Linked DNA regions of Homo sapiens: region 1 is linked to region 2. The links come from fine-mapping of genetic effects on gene expression. A gene starts in region 2. The other region holds a variant in brackets. All regions are shown on one strand. Distances are from middle to middle.

What was found. PIP is the estimated chance that this variant, and not a neighbour inherited with it, causes the effect. A credible set is the group of variants that fine-mapping cannot tell apart.
Region 1: its variant is the best candidate, but not a certain one, in a credible set for the expression of CBR4 in nucleus accumbens (GTEx, PIP 0.69).

What each region holds. Positions count from the first base shown.
Region 1 is chr4:168,877,759-168,886,100 of GRCh38, reverse strand. All of the region lies in intron 10 of PALLD (palladin, cytoskeletal associated protein), which reads right to left. It also overlaps the pseudogene RNU6-853P. Among named protein-coding and RNA genes, the nearest start is that of CBR4, 130 kb to the left of the region's middle. RefSeq lists enhancers at 4,665-4,914, 7,878-8,342 and a silencer at 7,957-8,196. The variant G/C (reference allele first, on the strand shown) is at 3,870.
Region 2 is chr4:169,007,225-169,015,566 of GRCh38, reverse strand. CBR4 (carbonyl reductase 4) reads left to right here and starts at 5,312. Exons shown (of 5, transcript NM_032783.5): 1 at 5,312-5,619; 2 at 7,811-7,931. The coding sequence starts at 5,478. CBR4-DT (CBR4 divergent transcript) reads right to left here and starts at 5,138. Exons shown (of 2, transcript NR_185919.1): 1 at 5,111-5,138; 2 at 4,507-4,783. RefSeq lists enhancers at 4,933-5,262, 5,362-6,311.

The DNA.
Region 1 (8,342 bases), 130 kb after region 2:
TAGTACATTTAATTCAAATTATTATATTGAAGAACTGTAACATTAATTGCTTATATCTTCCTTTACTGAGCTTTCTTATCTGTTTTTCCACAAAGAAAAATAAGAGAAAATTAGAATTTGGACTAATTTATGTTTGTACATACATACATAGGTGGTGATGGGAACTGTAGGTTCTTTACCCAAATAGTTAGGTCCTGGAAGAGGACAATTTATAGCAATGGTGACACATGCATTATTTGGTGCCTTGTAGATAGCAGGTACAAATGCTTGCCTCCCTAGTTGGAATGAGCATCACAATCTACTACACAGTTTATATTGCATTCATCCTTGAAGGCTATGAAAATTAGATCCTGAACCTAGAGTTTGCTGTTAGGCCACCTCTGCCTCCTACTAAAATGAATGTGTCCAGCCTATCAAAGATTCTCTTCAACAAGCATGAGCTCCATGACATATTACATTGCAAATCTGACTTTTTGCAAATGTACGTGGCTGGAGACATGCCAATCTTAGCAGTCAGTGCTTGAAATTGAAACTTGAGGGGGAATAAGAAAACATTCCAGTGGGCAATTATTTACAACGATTAATATTTGAACATTTTTAACTTACAAAAATGGCAGTTTCATAGAGGCTATATGGTTTAAAAATACAGAGTACTTCATGACTTTGTGTGTCATCCTTGCACAGAGGCCATGCTAATCTTCTCTGTATCATTGCAATTTTAGTATTCACACTGCCAAAGCAAGCACTCAACATTATTTAAGTGAGATGGCAAAGACCCCCCCACATCCTAAAGGATGGTCCTTGATCACAAAGGCTAATAACCAAGTTGGGGAATAAGTTAAGGAGCAAACCATGTGGTACCAATTCTAGATGCAATGGGAATAAAAAAGAAACAGAAAACAGTGCTGGCTAGAATGACTGCAGAAGACTCCATGAAAGAGGCAAGTTATAAGCCCTTGAAAGATGACAAGGATGTAGACAAGTAGAGTGGAGAAGAAGAAGAAATTCAGAGTCAGCGTGAATAAAGAAACAGACGTGATAACCTGTTTTTTTGTTTGTTTGTTTTGTTTTAACCACTTAAAAGCTGTGTGGTTTGGGCTAGTGACCTAATGACCATATGTCTCAGTTTCCTCCTTTGTAAAATGTGGGTATTAACAGCTCGTATCTGATGCGATCACTGGGTAAACTACATGAACTAATGTGTACTAAACACTTAGAACAGCGCCTGGTGTAGTAAGAGTGGATCTGAAGTGGCAAACAGAAAATATTCAGCATGGAAGTAAGTCACAGAGACAAGATTGGCTGAGATAAACAGAATGGAAGAGGGGAAGGAGTTTAAAAAGATGCCAAGAATTCTTGACCAGAATTTACAAGAATGTGCAAATAACCCTTACTGATTGCCTTCTCAGTGTTCAACTCTGTTCTAGGTGCTAGAAATACAATGTTGAACTAGGTCACAATAGTTAGAAAAATTGTATTTTTATGGTGGATATGGCAGAAAGAGATAAGAGAAAAGAATGGAAGGCAAGACATATCAGGAGGTGGTAAACGCAATGAAAGGACAGAAGTATGAGCAGATGACTGTATCAGACAGTGTGGTCCATCAGACTTCTGAGGAGGTGACTCTACAGTGGTGGCCTAAACCATAGGAAGTGGCTGGCTATGTGAGACCTACAGGGAGAGCTTGGCAGTGCAGAGGTCCTGTGACCAGAACCAGCCTGGCAGGGCCAACGGATGGGCACTGTGAACCCTGAGGAAAGAGGTATGGAATACAGTTTTCTCACACTTATTCTAATATGGAACCTCTTCTCTTTTTCAGAGCATCTCACTGGACTAACGTAATTCAGAAACACTTTACGAAATTAAAAGTTGAGGACAGGGTTTAGGGGTAGCATGCAAGGTGAGAGTTAGAAATAAAAGTGGAGTATTTTGAAAGGGGAGGCATGAGGAAAGAAAAGCAGTTATAAGTTTTGAGGCAAAAATTTGGCAACTGAGTTTGTTTTCCTATAAAACTAATGCTATGTTAGAGTTTAATGTAAGATGGTTGTAGTTCTGCTCCCTGAAGTGGCACCTTCTTTTGATAAATGAAGAGTAGCAACTCATTAGGAAATAAAAAGAGTGGTGACAAAGACATGATCTCCTTTTTTTTTTTGATGGTTTGCACAATTAAAAAAAAATAAAATAGTATTCAAAGTTAGTAGTTACCAAAACCAGAACTCTTCACAAAAATCCATACTCAGAGGCAAACCTTAACCAATAAACAATTTGTAACAGGCCTCCTGCACTAAATACTTCATTGTATACACACTCAGCCCAACTGTACAAAAAACATTACTGATCTGTTTACTCTGGCTTTAACAGTAAGTCATTTGTCATTTAAAAACAATATTCATGTGGTTGGGATAAAAACATCTCAAACATATACACAAGCATCTGGAAGGTAAAATTTTCCAGATTCAATCACCACCAAATCCCAAGAGGTCTCTTTTTTTGGCTACTGAATAATCTTGAAAGCATCCTTCCCTTGATATGCTATTGCAGGTCAATTCTGTGAGCAGATTTCAGAAACTCAAATTTCCAGAGCACAATATTGATTAAAGAGATAAGGTACCAGAATCAACCAGAGAATTTAACTATTACAAGTCCTCTTATTCTACTCTTCTCACATTCAGTGAAATCTGATGGTAACTAAATTCCACAAAATTTCAGAGTGAGCAAACTCATTAACATGTTGGCATTTAAATATCACTTATATTCAAGAATGTAATGTATTAATATATAAAAGAGCCCAAGATATACAAACTGAGCTTTTGTATATCAATTCTGTTTTCCTTTTACTGAATTTTACGGTAAAGCAAAGGCTGTTAAAGTACAAAAAATGGGTAACTTAAGCTCATATTTAAAGGAAAATAGATAACTTTATTGTAATATCAAATTCTCCTCATATTATATTTTGGGTTCTTTAAAAAAGAAAATGACAAAGGCACGTGGGTTACTTTTTTTTTTTTTTTTGAGACAGAGTTTTGCTCTGTCACCAGGCTGGAATGCAATGGCGCAATCTCAGCTCACTGCAACCTCACCCACTGTGTTCAAGCGATTCCCCTGCCTCAGCCCTCCCAAGTAGCTGGGACTACAGGTGCACACCACCATGCCCGGCTAATTTTTTGTATTTTAGTAGAGATGGTGTTTCACCATGTTGGCCAGGATGATCTCGATCTCCTGACCTCGTGATCCACTGGCTTCGGGTTACTTCTGTTCATTCATTCTGTACAACTTGGTACACAGCCGTACAGGTCTGATTTTGAGCTGCCCCAGGGGCAGAGACATTTCAACAGAATAACCCAGTCGCAGCAGATCCTGGAGGCCTTGCCTACTAATTTGTTGGTAAATACTTGTCCAGGATTGGATACAACTTGATAAGATACTGGACCCTAATGAGCCCAGTAATAACACCTCCAACCCCTTCAGGTCAGAGAATGAAAAGCCCCCCACTATCTGTTTCCTGAAAAATAGGAGAAAGATAGGTAGATGAGATGTCTGCAAAGTACATTGCGGCTTGTATCTGTTGGATTCTTTTTCACTGGTTACTATCTAACCACAGTCTTGACTTGAAAACTGGTGAAAATGCCCTGTGTCATGAATCTTAAAGTACAGTTAAATTTGTTACAAAGTTTTCCTTGACTCGGGGATTCTGATTTGCTGCTTCTACAACAGCTTTCTTTAATCAAGAAATGTTAGACATTAGAGTTATTTGAGATGAACCTAAGTCACGCTATGCTCTCCTTGCTCAGGCATTTCTTCCAGAACCCTGGGAAATCCCGTCACCTCTTGAGTAACGATGATAGTGTCCCCACCTACCCGTTTCCTAT[G/C]AGGGAGAAAGAGAGCGACAATGAGATAATGTCCATAAGGAGCTGTGGGCCTATATAATAAAAGCTGTCATTAATACATCTGTATAAAAGCTCTTATTGACACATGCTCTTCTTTGTGACAAACATGGGGCAACATTTCAAACCAAAGCCCTGCTTATATAAAAGAGGTAGTTAAGAGCATACAACATTGTGGCACTGTGGCTATGTGGCACTCCCTTATGAGCACAGATTCCAAGAATGTGAAGATGGCAAAAGAAACAGTGCCAGTCTGGTTCCAGGGATGGGTCTGATCTGATTCACCCTTCAGACTTAGTATGGCCACTCAGAGACCAGCAGAGCAGAACTGCCACACTATGCCTGTCGGCACTGCCAAATCTTCTGGGTTTCTTCTGTGTCTTAGGGCTGATTTACTATGTGGAGAAACATGGTTACAGCAATGGAGGCTGTAACACCAACTTACCAGCAATAGTGAGGGGAATAGAATACATTAATTTTATAAAAGTGCAAACAGATTTCTCTCTAAGGCATGCTCTCCTTACTGCCTCCATCTAAAAGAGTTTGTCAACTTAATATTTGTATCTGTTGACAGCTTTGTGCAGGGCAATATTTTGCCAGTGACCCCAGTAAATTTGGGGAAGATGTAGCATAAAGGAAGAAAGGCATTTGAGGAACTGTATGTATAGAAGTTCCCCAGACCGCAGTCAACCTCTCTCCGGCTCACAGAACAGCATGCAGTTGGTTGACTGCGGTCTGGGGAACTTCTATACATACAGTTCCTCAAATGCCTTTCTTCCCCAGATTTACTGTCTTTTGCCTCGGCTTTGTGGTTTATCACTGACATCCATGACCTTTGTTCCCTGCTTTGACCTCTGCTACCCAAACATATGAAAAACAGAACCTTATCTCCACAGACTGTTTAGAAACTTAGTACTTACTAACCTTCCTGTCTACAGATGAAAATAAGAACAGTGTGAAACAAACAGAATAAAACAGCAAGTATACAAGTATGATTAAGCAAACTAAGAGAGACTGGACACAGTGGCTCAGGCCTGTAATCCCAGCACTTTGAGAGGCCAAGGCAGGCGGATCACCTGAGGTCAGAAGTTTGAAACCAGCCTGGCCATCATGGTGAAACCCCATCTCTACTAAAAATACAAAAACTAGACGGACGTGATGGCCCACACCTGTAATCCCAGCTATTTAGGTGGCTGAGGCATGAATTGTTGGAACCCAGAGGCGGAGGTGGCAGTGAGCTGCAATTGCACCACTGCATTCCAGCCTGGACAACAGAACAAGACTGTCTCAGAAAAAAAGAAAAGAAAAGAAAAGAAAACTAAGATATTGGAAATTTACATTTAAGATTTTGGTAAAACAAGGCAAGTGAAAAAAACCTAATGAATTTCTACTTCATTGTGTTACATATAATCAACCAATTTGTTGGTACTTGATATATATGGCAAAACTATCCAGCTAAAGAAATAACACTTATAAGTGAAACTGAATATATACATCTTATGATAACTTGGCAGTTCCTGCAAGTTCCAGGATGCCAAAGTCATGGCAGCCCTGATAGGGACACTCAATCTTTGGCAAATTATTTGGATTATTATGGTAAACAAAAATAGTAACATTTTTGTTTTTAATTCAGAATGCAAATGACAGATCCCATAGTATGCCAGAGGAAAAACATGTTTCAAAAGACACATTTATCAAACCAAAATAATGAATTCTTCAAGTATGCGTGATTTAGCAACAGGAAAATTCCTTGAGGACAAAACGGTAACCACATAATAATGGCTTACTGAGCAGGCATGGAGCTAAAAATCTGTAGTCTGGTATTGCCACTTTGATGTCACAGCACTTCACTATCTTTGGGTACAGTTTTCCATGGCCACAAAATCGGCACGACTTCTCCATTAATTTTTAAGAAATGGCAGGAACGACTGGACTCTTGTGGTAACAATTATAAGCTATTTTGACTCCATAAAATGAGTCACTGTGATAGATGCTGACAAGAAGCAAGTGCTCCTGTTACTTGAGGTAAGCCATTAAAACTTGCTTATCTTAAGAAGGTTTCAAAGTCACTGATCAGCACAAACTGCTGTTTCTACTACAAATGATAAATGGCACAATCATCACCACCTTTGAAAAACGAATCTTTGATCAAATTCTATAAGAGAAATATTAGAACAGATTATTTACACAGTACTCCTCTTCCTGGGAAGCAAGACTTGGTACCCTTTTAATGAGAGAGGATGAAAAAGTGTCATGCAACAAACTCTGGCTCTTTGGGTCTCTCTAACAGCTTCTTTGTACCAAGATAATACACTTCCTTTTCTAACAGCTAAATAAAAGCTCAAAGAGAAAAAACAAGGGAGAAGGACAAAGGTTCTCCTCAGACAAGTTGACTGACAACTTTCAACAGAAGTCCATTATCACATCATTACTATATTTGGCTCCTTTTTTGGACTTGTTTCTTTATATATTCATTGGACTGTGTTTCACCCAATAAGGATTTGAGAAGAAGCCACATTTCAAATTAATGTAATCAACATTTAGGAAGTGCCCAACAAAAGAAGCATTGCTAACTGAAGCTGCCTGGTACACCTTTGTCGAGGCCCGACATAGCAATGCTTGCCTTTAAGGTGGCATTAGTGTATCCTAGCAATGGAACACTTTTATAGATGAATGAAAATAACTTGAATTCTAAGATCTTCTCCTTTTTACTGTTTAGTAGAGTTCCTTCTTTTTCTCTCTGAACAATAGTATGCTTCTGGCAAACTCTGAAGTAGGATTTCAGAAGGAAGAGTTGAGATATGGGTGCTGGCTTAACCTTTGTGAGCACTTCCTCATTTTTGAAATCTTCAGTAAAATGAGTAAGTACTAGCATTTACTCATTTTACTCTTCAACCAAACATGCCTAACACCTGTACTGTATTTTTTTGAGGATTTTACTGTACTTCTGTAGGTGTTATTTATCCTCAAAGATTTTCCATTTTAAAGACCTCATAGGGCTGCCACATCATCACTGTGATGTAAAGAGAGACATATTAGATCACCTGCAAACAGAAAGAGATAGAGGAGGCATGTAATGTATCTCGAGGTCACAGGCCAGGGACAAAACTGGCATCATAATTTCTCCACTAGGTTGCATACACCCTCATTTATCTACATCAAAACATAAAGACATTTACATGCTTTTGCCCCCTTCCAGTCAATCACTAGATTTACACAAAGGCTTATTTCTTAAATCTGTTAATTAAGGTTTTTCAAAAACACTAAGTATATACTTAATAACCAAACTCCTTCACATCCATTGTAATGCTGGCATGAAATATTATAATAAAACACATAGTTTGGTGGTGAGAGCATGGATTCGTGTCTCGGTTTAGTGGCTATGTGACCCTGGGCAATTTATTTAACTCCTAGACTCCTCAGTACTTTAACTGGGGCAATGCTACCTCTTAGGAATGTTGTATCAAATGAAATAATACATGTGAGTTGCTTAGCACAGTGCTCAATAAATGATAGCTAAGCACCCCCCCCCCCATAATGATTAAGAGAGGGCACTGCATAGATTTTGAATAGTTCCTGATGAGAATCTCATATTAATTCAGAGGAAAAAGTTCTGATTTTGATAATGTTAAGTGGCTACGCAAGAATCACTGAGTCAAATTGCCGTTAAGAATTTTTACATCGCACGGAGAGAAATGTGTGAAATGTTACTGGGGCGCTCTGGGTTGCAGGCTGATGGGAGCGCGTGTATGGAGATGTGGGAGTCCCAGGGCGACCCGAGGCGGAGGGGCAGGGAAGTGGAGGACCGCGGCGGTTACTCACGCGGGGGTGACACCCTTGGGCAGCCCCAGGGCGTTGACGGCCGCCGGCGGCGGCTGCGAGGGCAGCAGAGCGCTGAGGAAGGCCGCGGGCGTCTGGCTGTGGCCGAAGCGGGTGGCAGGCGACGAGCAGTGGGACGCCTGTCCCGGGCTCGGGAGCGGCGGTGGTGGCGGCGGCAGTGGGAACACGTCGGGCACCGGGAAGGCAGCCGTGGGGCTGAAGACCGGGGGTGGCGGGGGCGGGGGCGACGGCGAGGAGGAGCCCCACGGGGCCTCGGGCTCAGCGCCGAAGGGCTGCGCGAAGGGCGGCACGGGGGCGCGGCCGAACTGCCTCGGCGTCGGGGACATGGGCGACGGGAGGCTGGACGAGCTGGGGCTGGAGGCCGGCGTGCCGTGGCCCGACGCGGGCCCGAGGTTCTGCGCGGCGATGAACTGCTTGGGGCGCGCGTAGTTGAAGGAGCCGGAGGACTGCATGGCGGGGGCGGAGCGGGAGGCCAGCGCGCTCATGGGCTCCGGGGACGCGGGCGGCGTGCAGGCCGCGAGCTCGGGGAAGGCGGGCGGCGGCGGGAAGGGGGGCGAGGGCGGCGCGCTGCGCGGGGCTGGCGGAGGCTGCCGAGCGCCGGCCTCCTGCTCCAGTCGG
Region 2 (8,342 bases):
GCTGCCAGGCCCGTGCCTCTGATACAGATCTAGGAGTCTGAGTAGCCGCAGGGCCTGGATGGGAAAGGCTCACTTAAGTCTGGGAAATGCAGCAGGTGAGTTGAGAGCCACGTGAGACTATGCAGCCAGAAGGATAGAGGGGGGAAGGCCCTGAAACAAAGAGATGGAAATGGAATAGTGAGAGGCTGGGGTCAGAGGATTGAGGCCAGTCTTAAAACTAATTTCAGGAACACTGAGTTCTCCTCTTCTATGTGGCTTGGCAGGCGTGCTGCATTTGGGGCCTGATTTTAAGTATCCAGAGCTGGCTTTATACCATTATAAAATTTTTGGCTGGGAAAAAAAAAAGAGTTTCATAAAATTTCAGGCATTATGCTCTCCCATGGTACTTCCTGGTGAAATGTCCAACCTGTGATCTCATCTAGGCGTAATACTAACTCTACTTTGACTAACAATCTCTTTCATTATTAAGGGTGAATTTTTAATTCAGAATTTTATTCTTCATGTATAAATTATGTTATCACCTAGTTGGCTTTGTAACATAATGAATGGATAGTAGCTGTAGTTATCATTCTTTGCAATCTTTCTTTGTTATTATTCATTTACTTTATAGAACATTATGTCCTGAAAGAAGAAGCCTTCTCTGACCCCAGGCCTCCATATTGGATCAATGCCCCTAGTTATGATCCCTCCTAGCAGCCTGTACTTCTCCTTTATAGTTCTTCCCACCATTGGAATTAAATAGTGATGGCATGATTAATTGTTTAATGTCTGTCTTCCTTGCCAGATTATTTTCCCAACGAAAACAGGCACCAGGTCTATCTTAATCATAGCTGTATCGACACTGGTTCTTGCTTATAGCAATAAATTCCTTTTAAGTGAGTTATTTCATTCACTCATTGATTCATTTGTTAACTCATTTATTTAGCATTCACAAGCCCTAGGAACTGTGCTACAAACAGGGAAACAAAAACCAATGTGATCATTTCTGGATTCAAAGAGTTGGCAATTAAAAACAGAAAGTTTTTAACCATTTTATTTTATTTTTTATGTTTTTTTAAAAAAGATGAGGTCTCACCATGTTGCCCAGGCTGGTCTCAAATGCCTGGGCTCAAGTGATCCTGCCGCCTCCATCTCCCAAAATGCTGGGATTACAGGCGTGAGCCACTACACCTGGCACTTAACCATTTTAGGTGAAAGTTCCCCTTGAGAACCCAGTGAAGGAAGTGGACCCTCTTTCAAGAAGCTACTCATCTAAAAAGCACATGAGATTTTGTATTCAGCTTGGTAGGTTCACAGATCCTTGAGAATCTATTCACTATCTTCCTAAAATTATGTGGATTCTGACGTCACAGTAACTCCATGAAATACAGACTTGAAGACACATACAAGGTAAGAGGACGGGTAAAGAAGGACATCAGCATGTCCTCCTTTGGGTCAGGAGAAGCTTCCATTGCAAGAGATGTTTGAGCCACATTTTGAATGATAAATCAGATGTTACCAGGGAAAGCAGTGGGAGCATTCGAGGTTGAGAAGACAGTGTTTGGAGAAGCATGGATGTGTAGAAGTTGGAATGGTATTTAGGGAGTAGAATCAGCAGGACTTTGTGACTGATTGGATGTGGGATGTTGAGAGAGGGAAGGAATAAACTCCATGCTTCTGCCTTAGGCAACTGAGTGCCAGGTTTAGGTCTCGGTGGGCAGCCTCAGAGGCATAAACGCCAATTCAACAAAATAACAAGCTCATGGGCCACATTTTTTGTTCCCAATCAAAATGAAATAAACTTTTGTAAGTGATAAAAAGTACATTCCTTACAATTTAGATTACCCAGCAGATTGGATACAAGAATGCCAATGAGGAAATCAACATGCTTTTTAATCATAAAAGTTATATCTGTGCAGCCACACTAAGGCAGCTTTCTAATCTTTCTTCTTGAAAGAAGAGCATGGTCTGTATGGAGAAGTTAGCTGGCCACATGCAATTTGGGTCGTGCAGATTATCATCACTGCCTGAAGAATCCTGGGAGACTGCTTGCTGGCAGGAAGGGTTATGCTTCAATTATGGATCTGATAAGCTGGATGTGCTTAGTATGGTGCATTTGTAAAGAGGATTCTCAATGAATATTCAATCATAATTCATAAATTTCTTATAAATAAATTTTCCTGCATATTTGGAATCTTGGGCATTATAAATCTTGACGTATGAAAAAAATATTCATGAAAGGTACAACCCCCTTATAATTAGTTGCAGATTCAAATTTCGTATAACAGGGCAGTAGGCTTTAAATTACATCTTTTTCAATAACAGTTCCATTGGGATATAATTTGCATACGATACAATTCACACGCTTAAAGTGTACAATGCTTTCAATGAGTTTTTATTTACTTTAAAAAGTTTATGTTTTCTAACTGTTAGCAATTAAATGGTATTCCTTTTGTAATCAGAAAAGTAATACTAGGTATGCATATTTAAAAATTTGTATAACAGTCCTTATACATAAGGAATTTTCTCCTTCGATTGTGGGAGCCAAGAGAAAATATATCCTATGTGGATTTAAGTTAAAGTATAACATATGGTTAAAATATTACCACAAAAGTGGCATGTTTAGTGAGAAGGAAAGACTAAAGGTGGGTCATTCTAATGGCTTCCTTCAATGTCCTGCTGGGTAGGGGAGACCCAGTTTAATTTACAGATCCTCACTTCACTATCAGGGGCTTACAGAGAAACTTCCCCTGCTGTAACCTTCTCAGCTAATGGGTGATGTGCTGTGATAGATGTATTCTCACCCGGGATAGTGGTGATATTGTATTAAGAGGGAAAAAAAATAAATAATAACCTTGAGGTTTAACCTGAGGTATGTGTTGAATAAAAAGCCCAGCTTATCCATTTACAGTATATATACAGTGAGAAAAGTTGGAAGGTTTTCAGAATTCTGAATGTCACCTCATATCATGTGTTAGTGATCTTCATGATAGATGGCATAGATCTAAAAACCATTTTTTTTTGCTAAAATAACAATGTGTAGAAAAAAAAATAATCATTTTCCTAGCAAATGGAGAGAACTGTTCAAAAGATAAACCTCTCTGGTTTGACCTAAGGTGCAGGAATACAGTTGGCATTTAGGCTGACCCTTATATTGGTAATTTATGTAAAACAGTTTTTTCTTTCCAAGATTGCATAGTGTATAGTAGGAAAGTGAATAGACAAATTTGATCTGACCCATTTTTACATCACTGGGAAACTGTTTGTTTGTTTTTTAGAACACTGTTATTTTGAGACAGGGTCCTGCTGTGTCATGCAGGCTGGACTGCAGTGGTGCAATCATGGCTCACTGCAGCCTTGACCTCCTGGACTTACATGATCCTCCCAACTCAGCCTCCCGAGTAGCTGGGACCACAGGTAGGCCACCATGTCCAGCTAATTTTTTTTTGTATTTTCTGTAGAGATGGGGGTCGGGGGGGTGGGGGTCTTGCTGTGTTTCCTGGGTTGGTTTTGAACTTCTAGACTCAAGCAATCCTCCTGTCTCAGCCTCCCAAAGTGCTGGGATTACAGGCATGAGCCACCACGCCTGGCCTGCTAATAGTTCTTAAATGCAGCTCTTATCTTATTACTTCTGCAGTTAAAGGCCTGTTTAATGCTTGGCACCTGACTTTAAAGCTGACTATAATATAGCACCATCCCAAATTTCCTCAGGCTTGTTTCCTCATTGTTTCAAACATATATTGTTTCAAAGACACAATTTTTATGTGTGACTGTTTGCTTATATTGTTTAACTTCCTATTGTATTTGCTTTTAATAAAGTCTAATAGATGCTATGAAAACAGCCTTACAATCTCTTTTTCTTTTCATGAAGCTCACTGTCTACTACAATGCTTAGTGTGCCATTTAGGAGGACCTATGAGGAGGGAGTTTTGCTCAGGCTTCTCTGCTGCATAACCAGGAGGCTGATTTCTTACAGAAATTACCACTTGTAATTATATTTCCTTTGTTGCTTTCGCTGGCAGGAAACTCTAAGTTTATGAATCTCTTCTTTAATACTAAATAGATTCTTATAGCATGACTTTATTCGTATTTTTTCCACTGACCTAATTTATTGTTCTGGCCTTGTGGGAGAAGGGGCAGTGGTCCTCTTTGCCTTTTAAATTCAAATACTCATGTATTTTTGCAAACCATTTCAAATCTTTTTTTGGATCTAAATGGAATAGGAATAACAAATTTAAATTAATGCTCAACTTGCTTATTTATAGACTTTTTGCTCTTGTTTTCCTTTTTTCAAACCTCATCCAGCCCTCAAATCCAGCTTTTCCATGCACCCCTTCATTCTTCACTGATCTCCATTTTCTCGGAGCTCTTGTGTTAATATAATTTTGCATTTTACTAAGTATGATTTTGGATACCTCCTAGTGTTTCATGTGTATTAGTCCTGTAGTTCTGGGTTGTAGTTTTTTTAGTGGTAGGGACCATGGCTCATACTTTTCTGAATCTAGTAAAATAATATTGTATCAGAAATGCTTTCTGTTTACACTATAATTGTAACAAACATTGAATTTTTTAGCTTATTAACTCTCAGAGCACCCAGTACATCTTATTTAGAATTGCAGGAACCCATTTTTGTTTCTCTACAGCAGCCGAAGCTTGTTTCATAGATCTTGCAAGACTATTCAATCATTCAGTTAAAATTCCTTGACCTCCTGCTGGATGATGTTCGACAGGGCATTCATCTTCACGACACCCTTCGCGATGAATGGTAACATCTGGGCGGGTAGAGGTCCATTTCTACAGCAACCTGGGGGAGGAACAGGTAGGGTAGGTTTTGGTGTGGGTGCGATTCTTGGGGACTTCTTCAACAGGTAGGACATCAAGTCTGTAGCCAAAACAACACCTGGGCGAAGGGCAAATACCGGAGCCCCGACCGGCTCACGCCCAGTAATGCTTTCTCTGGGTTCTAACTACGTGATCAGGTCGTCTTGGTTTGCCAGGGAAAGCCCAGCGTCTTGACAACCCTGTCAGTTCCGAACAAACCGGGTCGATTGGTCACCGGGGCTCGAATCCCGACTGATATGACCCAGCGGGGACAGAGGATCCCCCTCAGTGCCACAAGTACATTCCCCACCGAGCAGCGCGCCTGCGCCAGTTGCTCTCATGCGTCAAGACTACAGGTCCCAGCAAGCATCGAGGCCCTCTCCAGGCCATTCTTCCGCCGGCGGGGAGCTCTCGTCGGCGTATTTGTTAGGTGTGGCGCGGAAGAGTCCGTGCGTGATGACGTCGACGCGGCGACGTCGAGCTCTTCCTCCTTTTCACGGCGTCTTGCATTACTATTGTGCGGCTGCAGGAGGTGTCGAGCGGCGTTATTTTTTTTTGCGGTTTGCCTTTTTTTTTCTTTTTTTTTTTTTTGGAACCGCGGTTGTTTAAAAGCCTGAGGGAACCTGGAGAGGGGCTCCCACTCCCTACCCTCTTTCCTCCGAGTTTGTGACTCCGAGATGGACAAAGTGTGTGCTGTTTTTGGAGGCTCCCGAGGCATTGGCAGAGCTGTGGCCCAGTTAATGGCCCGGAAAGGCTACCGACTGGCGGTCATTGCCAGAAACCTGGAAGGGGCCAAAGCCGCCGCCGGTGACCTCGGCGGTAGGTACCAAACTGGAGTTGTCCAGTTGTATGGCCGCGGTCCAGGCGCCTAAAGAAAATCTCCTTTGTAAAAAGAGCGGGTCTGGCCTTTAGGGCTCTAGGGTTACTCGATGTAGCCGCGTGCAGGCGCTCTCCCGTTCCAAGGGTAGAATGCGTCTCGTGCAGAAACCCGCGATCTCCCTATGCCTCGCAGAATGCCGGCCACGCAGCTTGCCGCCGAGGGCTGAACACTTGGGGTGTTCTTTGAGACCTCGTAGTCTTTTGAGGCCCCGCTATACGCACCCTCCGCCCTGCGGCTAGTGCTAACGCTGAGGAGCTTCCCTGTTGTGGGAGAGAGCCACGTAACAGTTTACTTTTAATGTAGGGAAAAGGGCGAGTTCTCGGCCCCCGGAGACAGGGCTGGGTCGAAAGGAGTTCAGGCAGGAAAGGTGGGAGTGCAGGTACCAACGGCTCCCTTCAGTTTTGCCCAAGGGCCGTGCCTTGGCCCTGCGCGAATGCACAAAGCAGTGTTTGATAGAGAAACCCTTTTGAGTACCAGCCAGTTTTGAGATATACCTGGTTTGCTTTAATGTTATTAAATTGTTTTGGTGAGTTTTGCAAATGGACAATTGAACTTTGTTCTGCCAAATTCTTTTTTATTGCATTTAAACTTCAGGGTTTTTTATTTCCGGCTTATTATGAATGGATTAGTCATTTTGTGAATATAACTCTTCATTGAGTTTAGGGAGAAATAGGACGTTAGATCCGAAGATGCTATTTGTTTAATCACCAGAATGGACAAAATTATACTTCATTTACTATCAGGGAGGCATGGGGAGAATAGAGGCCTAGGGGTGCGTCTTGTGGCTCTTACTGTTTTTGTGTATCTGGTTTTTTTTTTTTTTTTTTGAGAGGGCTTCCCATTATGTTGCCCGTGCTGGACCCCAACTCCTGATTTACTGGCTCTAGAGATCTTCTCGCCTCAGTCTCCCAAGGACCTGGGACTATAGACGCCAGGTGTGGCTGTTCATTTTTAAGTTAACATTATTGATCGGTTTGGTATCACCTGTTCAGTGCTGGTTGGGAGACTATTGGGCTCTCTAAAAGAAAAAAGATTCTGTAAGTTATAGGTCAGGGAGAGTGTCAGTGAATGCTTCTTGAAGCTCATATTCCTTACCATTCTAACAAAGGAGGGGAAGAGTGGTGACCCTTACTGTGTCACCCCAAGCCATCAGTGTTTGCTGGACTGGATTGAAGCCATTAGTTGGGCTTTCAAAGGTGGTTGTGGACACAAGTCTTCGGGTGAAAACCAAGAGTAAGAGAGACACAGGATGCTTTTGGGCCCTGCATTCCTTTGAATCGTGTTCCATGAGTGATTGGTTTTCATCTAGAAAGTATAATTCCCCGGGTCGCTTACTGTTTCCAAAGGCTTGATGGGGTAGTGTTGGTGTAAGCATATTTATCAAGGTCAGACAGAAAATAAAGAATTGTTTTAGCTTTTAAAAACAATCCTACATTTTAGAGTATTAAAATGGTAGATTACATAGGGAATGCTTTGTTTTCCTTTGAAGTGTAGTTTTTTTTTGGCATTTAACCATTTTTTAAAAGTGGTAAGTAACAGTTGCTTTTAGTAAAAAGTGTTTTTTTCCCCCCGTGGTTTGTAGTTTTAGCATTTTTATAGCTTCCTGTGTTGTCTCATCTCTCCTGATGGTCAGGTTTGAATAATAGTCGTTATAATATATGTGCCATAGTGCATCCGTAGCACTTAAAAAGAAGAAACCCAAGAGTTCCCGTTCAGGGCCAAAGAAACTAATTCAACAAAAACCTGACAGAATTAGACATAAATTTCAAAAAAGGAATATAAAACCCAGAAGACTGTCGAATTGGGTAGCATGAATTCAGTGTTAAAGCTATAAATATTAGATGAATCTTACAGAGCCTTTATAACTTGAAAAAGCCCTCCCCCCTTTGTTGATTAAAAAGAAAATTTTAAAATTAACTTTCTGTAGTAGTACTTTATTTCCTCTTTGTTCCCGCATCCCAGTTTCATTAGACCAACTCTATGAAAGCCAGGCCTCATGACATTACTTTTTTAATCTTTAGGTTCTAGATTAGCACAGGCCTGCCATCTTAGATAGATGCTTAACAAATGTGTATTGAGTAAATTTAAAATTTGAGTTATAAGTAATTCTTATTTAACTTTGTTGTGTAGGAGATCATTTGGCATTTAGCTGTGATGTTGCTAAAGAACATGATGTTCAAAATACATTTGAAGAGCTGGAGAAACATTTAGGTCGAGTAAATTTCTTGGTAAATGCAGCTGGTATTAACAGGTTGGTCACAGATTTAAATAAGTTTCTTATATATATATTTAAAACTTTTATTCCTAATATGTCTTTGATTGGTATAAGTTAATATGTTTATTTTGCTTCTAACTGGGAGAAAAAACTATTTTAAAACTTGTCAATCCATAAATTATTTTCCTTTATATTGAGATACAACATATAATAAATGTCCAGTTGAGTCGATTTTAACATTGTAATCATCACCCATATTGAGCCGTAGAATGTTTCCAGTGCTCCAGAAGGTAGTGTCTTCTCAATACTTCCTTGTTGGTAACTGTTTTCTGAGTTTTGTCACCACAGATAAGTTTTGCCAGTTTGTGAACTTAATACTAATAGAATCATGGAGTGGATATTATTTTTTAAAAGATGAATTTAGGAGAGAATATTTAGATAACATAT